2 linked regions of the Homo sapiens genome follow. The protein of the gene in region 1 interacts with the protein of each later gene in a pairwise test. Each region holds a gene or a part of one and is shown in the gene's direction. Other genes may lie near its edges.

Evidence for each region. Proteins that work in one complex are often made in the same cells at the same time.
Region 2: the proteins of LAMP2 (region 1) and CRCT1 interact in binary tests that used the Homo sapiens proteins (3 or more experiments, as listed by UniProt).

The regions. Positions count from the first base shown.
Region 1 is NC_000023.11:120,462,797-120,466,296, reverse strand, and holds part of LAMP2 (lysosome-associated membrane glycoprotein 2 isoform A precursor), read left to right. Parts: intron 1-3,500. UniProt on the Homo sapiens protein: Lysosomal membrane glycoprotein which plays an important role in lysosome biogenesis, lysosomal pH regulation and autophagy.
Region 2 is NC_000001.11:152,513,059-152,516,508, forward strand, and holds CRCT1 (cysteine-rich C-terminal protein 1), read left to right. Parts: upstream 1-1,423; 5' UTR 1,424-1,494; intron 1,495-2,199; exon of another isoform or gene 2,200-2,303; 5' UTR 2,304-2,325; coding exon 2,326-2,625; 3' UTR 2,626-2,950; downstream 2,951-3,450.

The DNA.
Region 1 (3,500 bases):
GCTTTCATGTCATTAAATTTTTTTTTGTTTTTTAATGAAAGCTTTTTTGTTTTGTTTTTACAAAAGCAATGCTTACTCACTGCAGAAAATAAACATGCAAAAAGAAGCACATAAAAGAACCCATCAGCTCATCTGCTAGTTTGCCATTTATTGATCAGGACTAACTAGATTCTTCCTCTTGGAAAATTTCCAAGATTGATTCCCTCCGCCTCCAAGTTCAGAGCAGGATTTGGAAAAGTAAATATTAATAATGTACCTAGATCTGATTTTTAAGAGGTTCCAGGATGAAATAGAAACCATTTTTCTATACAGCTGCATTTTCTGATGGCTCTTGGTTCAGTGTGGAGCCCAAAGTCCTCCCATATAGCTTTTTCTGTCAAGAATTTAGCAGTTGCTTGGTGGGTTTTGCACAAGTTACTTTTCTATATCAAAATGGATACCAATAATAGGTTTTTGAAAACTTAATAAATATTTGTAAAGTACCTAATATGTAGCTAAATCAATAAATATTTGTAAAGTACCTACTATGTAGCTAGAACTGTGCCTGGGTACTGTACGGAGTGCCAATGAAGGAGGACCTGTCCTAAATTTATAGTCTTATTAGCATTAGTGCTCTAGCTGTGCCAGTTTGACTTTGTAACTTTATAACTCTATCCCAGCTTCACCCATAACCTTTTAAAAACAGCAGCTTTAGAATAAGTACAGAAAAGGATTCTTAGAGGCTATATATTGGTCTTTTTCATAGAGATTAAATTATGCTGGTGTTTATTTGGATGAATTGTAACTGACCAGACAACTTTCCGAAGAGAAGCTATATGATTTAGAGGTGTTATAAAGTGGATAGTGGGTGAAAATCCTTTCTTTATATAATTGCCTAATTATGGTCCTTTTGTGATATCATAGATTTCAGGATTCTTCTGTGGTTATTGATTCTTATAACTAGCTTGACTTCTGTTTTTTGGTTTGTTTGTTTGTTTTTTTAGGGTTCAGAATTTTTTTTTTTTAGGTTTGAGGCTTTTCTGGGTGGGAAAAACCTCACAGAAATATTCTTAGTGTATGTTACTGGTAGGAGCCTCTCCCTTCCACACGTTTACTGAATGCCTATTGTGTCCCAGCCACTATATTAGGTGAAAGGGACAGAGGAATGGATAAGACAGATGAGGTTCCTGCTCTCATGGAGCTTACATTTTAATGGGAGAAGAAAGCTCAACAGATAAATAATATAATGTCAGATAGTGATAAACACTATGAAGAGGCCGGGCATGGTGGCTCACGCCTGTAATCCCAGCACTTTGGGAGGTCAAGGTGGGCAAATCACCTGAGGTCAGGAGTTCGAGACCAGCCTAGCCAACATGGTGAAACCCCATCTCTACTAAAAATACAAGGGCATGGTGGCCAGCACCTGTAGTCCCAGCTACTCGGGAGGCTGAGGCAGGAGAATTGCTTGAATCCAGGAGGTGGAAGTTGCAGTGAGCCGAGATCATGCCACTGTCCTCCAGCCTGGGGGACAAGAGCAAAACTCTGTCTCAAAACAAAACAAAACAAAAACACTATGAAGAAAATTACACAGGTAATGAGAAAGGAGAATGAGTAGATGATAGGAATGGGTGATGGTGGATGATCCTTCTTTATATTATGTGGTCAGAGGGCCTTCCGTTATCGGGTGACATTTGGGCAGAGACCTGGGTGTTGGCAGGAGGCCAGCCATGTGACCATCTGGGGAAATAGGAATAAATCTTATCATTTGCAAAATCTTAGGTTACTAGCCTATTTTCCACGCTTTTTTGTTTCCCCCTAGTTTTAGTCAAGTCTCTCCTATGGTAGCAGTCTCTAAGAGCAGAGACGATCTTATGTACTGTTACTTCCCATTGCCTACCTAGCATAGGGTCTGGTACATGGTTAACCCGTAGTGAATTTTTGTTGAAGATATTCATTGGTGGGCACTAGGGATATGGTGGTAAACTAGACTCATTTAGTCTCCTTTTTCTTCCATGAATTTTAAATGATGTTTTGCAAGAAGTTCTTTTGGATTGAAAACTTCAAGATCAGTGCTAAGCAGTACGGATAATTATACAGTAATTTACTAATGTATAATCCCATATAATAATGCTAGTTTCTTACCTGTACTCCTTCAGATATACCTCCGTAGTCTCGAAGGGGGTAATATGGAGAATTAGGAGTTCCTTGGTGAGGAGAGTTAGGTTTTCACAAAGTTAGGTTTTCTCTGAGAGAAAACAAGCACTAAGATTTTTCTATAGGCTTAACACATTTCATTTAACTGATAACTTTGATTTCGAGGTTCTGCCAAATTATTCTAGTTATAATAGAGATACTGTAAAGGACTGAAAAATTCTGAACCCTAAAAAAAAACAAAAAAAAAACGAAAAACAGAAGTCAAGCTAGAAGATAAGAAAGGACAGGCTTGTTAGTTTGTTAGTCATTGATTATCACATCTGATAGGGTTATAGATATTCAAATATGTCCCAAATACCAGATTAGTTTGTTAGTCATTGATTATCATATCTGATAGGGTTATAGATATTCAAATATGTCCCAAATATCAGATTGTCACATCTGATAGGGTTATAGATACTCAAATATGTCCCAAAAGAACAGCTTTCTTCCCCTATATCTTTGGGTAGATTTTGTCTATAACCAAGCATTATTTCGTAGCACTGGAGCTGATTTAAATGACCCTTGATGCAGGAAGGCTGCTCTTCTTTCTGTAGTGCAAAAGTATTCTGATCATAATTTCTTATTAAAGTGATCAGAGATCCCCTCAGACCCAAAAGTATACTTTATAAGTACTTGTTGGTATCCTGCTGTGCATTGTGAAAGAATTCTGGAGGTGTGCCAAACACTGCTCAACAATAAGCACTTTCCATTAGTTGAGTAGTGTTGAATCTTGTTTCCTTACCCACTCTTTGGCCTTAACAAATTAAGTCATTTTATAGCTTAAAAACATATTTTTATTAACTTTTAATACTCTTTTTCATGTGTTCAACATTCTTACTTTAAAATCATATTGCTTTTCTCCTTTAAGAAACTTACCAAAAGCAAGGGTATAAAGTAACTGAATGCAATGAGTGTACCTATTATTAGGAATTATAAAGGAGAAACAGTTAATCTGACTTAAACTTGTAGGAAAACCATCACTCTGAATAGAAAACAAAGATAAATAGGTACCGTATGCCTCTGTGTCCTGTATTTTAAAAAGACCTTTTGCTCAACATCATTCTAAATTCATGAGTTTGAGGACAAGAGTCCAGAATTTAATATGATGAAAGTAAACATAAAGCTAAAACTTGGGAAGGTTCCCTTTAGGTGCTGTGTTTACTAAAAAGGAGACTTGTAAATTGGTATCTAACTTGTTTGGCAAATTTCTTTTAGCTCTGAAGGGTTTATATGCTTTCAAAGAACCTATTGGAGAAATATGCACTATAATTCTAAACAAGGGTAACTTGCCCAAAGTCTCACAGCTAGGAAGTTGGACTGCCAGA
Region 2 (3,450 bases), on another chromosome or scaffold:
TGAGATCATAGGATGCCCACAGAATGAGTAGGCACTTGCCCAGATTATCTCCTTATACTGATTCCTACCAAACGTTCTTCATTCTTTTTTTTTTTTTTTAAAAGAACTTTGCCCATTTTCCCAGAGGAGATCCTGCCTCTGTCTTGTTATTTCATTACTTCCTTCTCTGTTCTAATATTGACTTTACTTTTTGGAATGTCTCACCTATACTCACCAACAGGTGCTCTAGGAACTGGCAACCTGTTAATCAGGCTCTAAATCCATGTTAAATGAAACTGGTATCTTTTGTGACTTATCTTTCCTCGCCTAGTCCCTTGAGCCACTCCCAGCTCACTCGCCCCCAAACCTGTCTCTCATCCTTAATTCCTGAATTCTTAGTCTTGGACTTCTGTTATAGTTCACATTCACAGTTGTGGGCAATTTGATTAAGAAGCAGTTCTGAAGTTGACTGCCAAAGTATCCTCCAATTCTTAAAAATTAGTTATTCTGAAAACACTATCTATCATGAACACTTTGGACCTTTGGAAAGAACTTTCTTTCTTTCTTTCTCTTTTTTTTCTTCTTTCCCTCCCTCCCTTCTTCCTTTCCCATTTTCTTTTGCACTGGGCAGTGGCCCTAGGGAGAACTTATCTTCAAAGGCAGATTGGTGGTTGGGGGTGGGATAAGAAGCAGGAGTCCCACAGGCTGACTAGCCTTTTTGCAATTGGGCCACTGTCCTGCACACATTTTTCTCTTTGTCATACCATGCTGTATTATGGGGATATGGCAACCTGACTACATTCACAACTTTTCTGGTCTTATGGTTCCTTAACTTTGCCTAGGTTTTTCTTCCTGTCTCCAGTGACAGAGAGAAATCACCCCTGGGGTTCCCAAAGGTGCATCCCCGTCATCATCTTCACTCACTGCATCTTGAAGCATATGGATGAAACCCAGCAGGCTTATCGCATAGCTTGTGGTCTGCCCTGGGGAGCCAAGGACCAAGAGCCAGAGAGATGAGAATCAAGATAAAAATAGGTGAACTACCACCTACCAAGTAGATGACTACATAGGAATGGATGTGTGGGCAAGTGGAGCCGTCTGTGTGTGTGTGTGTGTGTGTGTGTGTGTGTGTGTGTGTGTGTATTGAAGACAAGGGCAGGGGTTCCAGACCTCCCTGCATTTGAGCCCCATGCCCTCTCTTAGCATACACACAGCCTCCCAGGTACAAACAGTGCCCTGTTTGGAAAGTAAACATGCCATAGCAATCCTGGCACCTCTGTGAAGTGACTTAGATGCCCACATGCACCACCTACAATGCTACCTGAGTGATGAATGTCTCTGGGATGTGAGTGTCAGCTGAGCACGTCTGTTGGGAAATGGGCCCCTCCCAAGAGCCTGAACCTGAATACTTCTTATAAAAAGGTTCTCTGGCTGGACGCTGCTCAATCCACTGCCTAGCAGGTGGCCCATTCCAGTTGGAGAACGTAGTGAGTCTTTCAGTGGAGCCAGGGTCTGGTAAGTCTCCTAGCAGGGTCTGGGGGAGAGGGTGGGATGAGTTGAGGGCACAGGGGAGGAGCAAACAGAACACAGGCAGCAGATAGATGTGGAAGGGGTGTCCCGCAAGGCACCTACGCTTCTAGTGAGCCAACCTCTTAAGGTACTAATGAGGACATAAAGGCAACATAGGAGGTGGTTTTTGCAAGGGTACACAGCAAGTCCGCAGAAGAGCTGTGACTAGAACCCAGGTCTTTCAGCTCCCTGGATGGGGTTATTTATATTGGCACAACTCTCCTTTCCCACATGGTTGTGGGGCATGAGAGGCGTAGGCAAGAAAGAATGATCAGGACATGCTTCTGGCCTGTGGATTATTTAGACCCAGCAGGTGGGACCGCCTGTTGGACTTGGGTGTTTTCTAACTGATGGGGGTGTAGTAACTAGGAAGATACAGTCGAAGGTCGGTAGGAAAGTAAAATGAGGGACAAGAAAAAAGCCAAGTGGAGATTTTGGACTGGATCATACAGATAAGTTGCCGCAGTGTGCTGTTTATTTTCCACTGTGGAGAACTTGAGCAGTCTTCTTCTAGTCAGAGAAAATGGAAATGCATTGATTCATTGCATGGATTGTGTCCTGCTCTGAGCATGTTTAACTCACTGGAAACACCTGCTTGGATTTGCTTCTTTGCGTCCGCTCTTTCTGGGTGCTTTTCCCTCCTTGTCCCAGGCCAGGCTGACTTGTACACTAAGCCGAATCTCAAAAGCCCAGACAGAGTTCCATTGGTGGAAAGAAAAAGCCGGCTCGCCTTTGAAAGGCTGCCTTTCTTCCAGGTTTGTCGTGAGGAGCTCCGCGATGTCCTCTCAACAGAGCGCCGTTTCCGCCAAAGGCTTTTCCAAGGGGTCGTCCCAGGGCCCCGCTCCGTGTCCCGCCCCGGCGCCCACCCCGGCGCCCGCCTCCTCCTCCTCCTGCTGCGGCTCCGGCAGGGGCTGCTGCGGCGACTCAGGCTGCTGCGGCTCCAGCTCCACCAGTTGCTGCTGCTTCCCAAGGAGACGCCGCCGACAGCGGAGTAGTGGTTGCTGCTGCTGCGGGGGCGGCAGCCAGAGGTCCCAGCGCTCCAACAACCGGAGCTCAGGATGCTGCTCCGGCTGCTGAGAGGCCCGCAACCCCCAGCGCTGCGCTAGAGAAACCCGCCCAGCCCAGAGCGGGCCCGCCCCGCTGCGGCTCCCACGCGGGGCTGGGCCTCGGAGTTTGCCCCGTAAAGCGAATTGCACTTTGATGTTCAGAAACCCACTTTGTTCTCAGCCACGCAAAACTCCCTGACCCCGATGTGATTTTTCTCCCCGGGGATTCGAGAGCCATGCGTGGGACACTGGACCCTACTGTCTACACGGGCTTGCACACAGCAGGTGCTCAGCAAATGTCTATTGATTTGATTGTCTTTTGAAGATGTCATAATAAAGCTTCTACCTCCTGAGAACACCTTTTATTTGTTCTTCATTCGTTTCTCCACCCAGGTAGAAAGGCTTGAAATGTTTGTGAAAGGCAGAATACTATAATTCATGCCTGAACAAGAAGGTGGCTTTCTGATAGTTAATTATGATAGCAGCGATCACATATCGACTGTTTCGAGTATTTTAAGGATTTTATGCGACAAAGTCCTTGAATATTCTCAGGACTTTATGTGGCACAATCTGATTCTCATAATGACTTGCGTAGGAGAGTGCAATTATACCCATTTTACAGAAGAGAAACTGAGGTTAAGTAATTTGTTCAAAGTCACCCAGCTGGCGCATGATAAAGAAGACAGGACATCTGATTCAAGGGCTTCATTGCTCTGCTGAGTTCTCACCTGGGCTTCCCAAGCCTTACCACTGAGGTGCTCCTCCCGACCACCAGGTCCAGGCAGCTGTGTGGTAAAAGTTTGTTTTGGCAACTCTTTGGGGCTTTGGAATCAAGCCAGCTGTCTTCTTTTTTTTT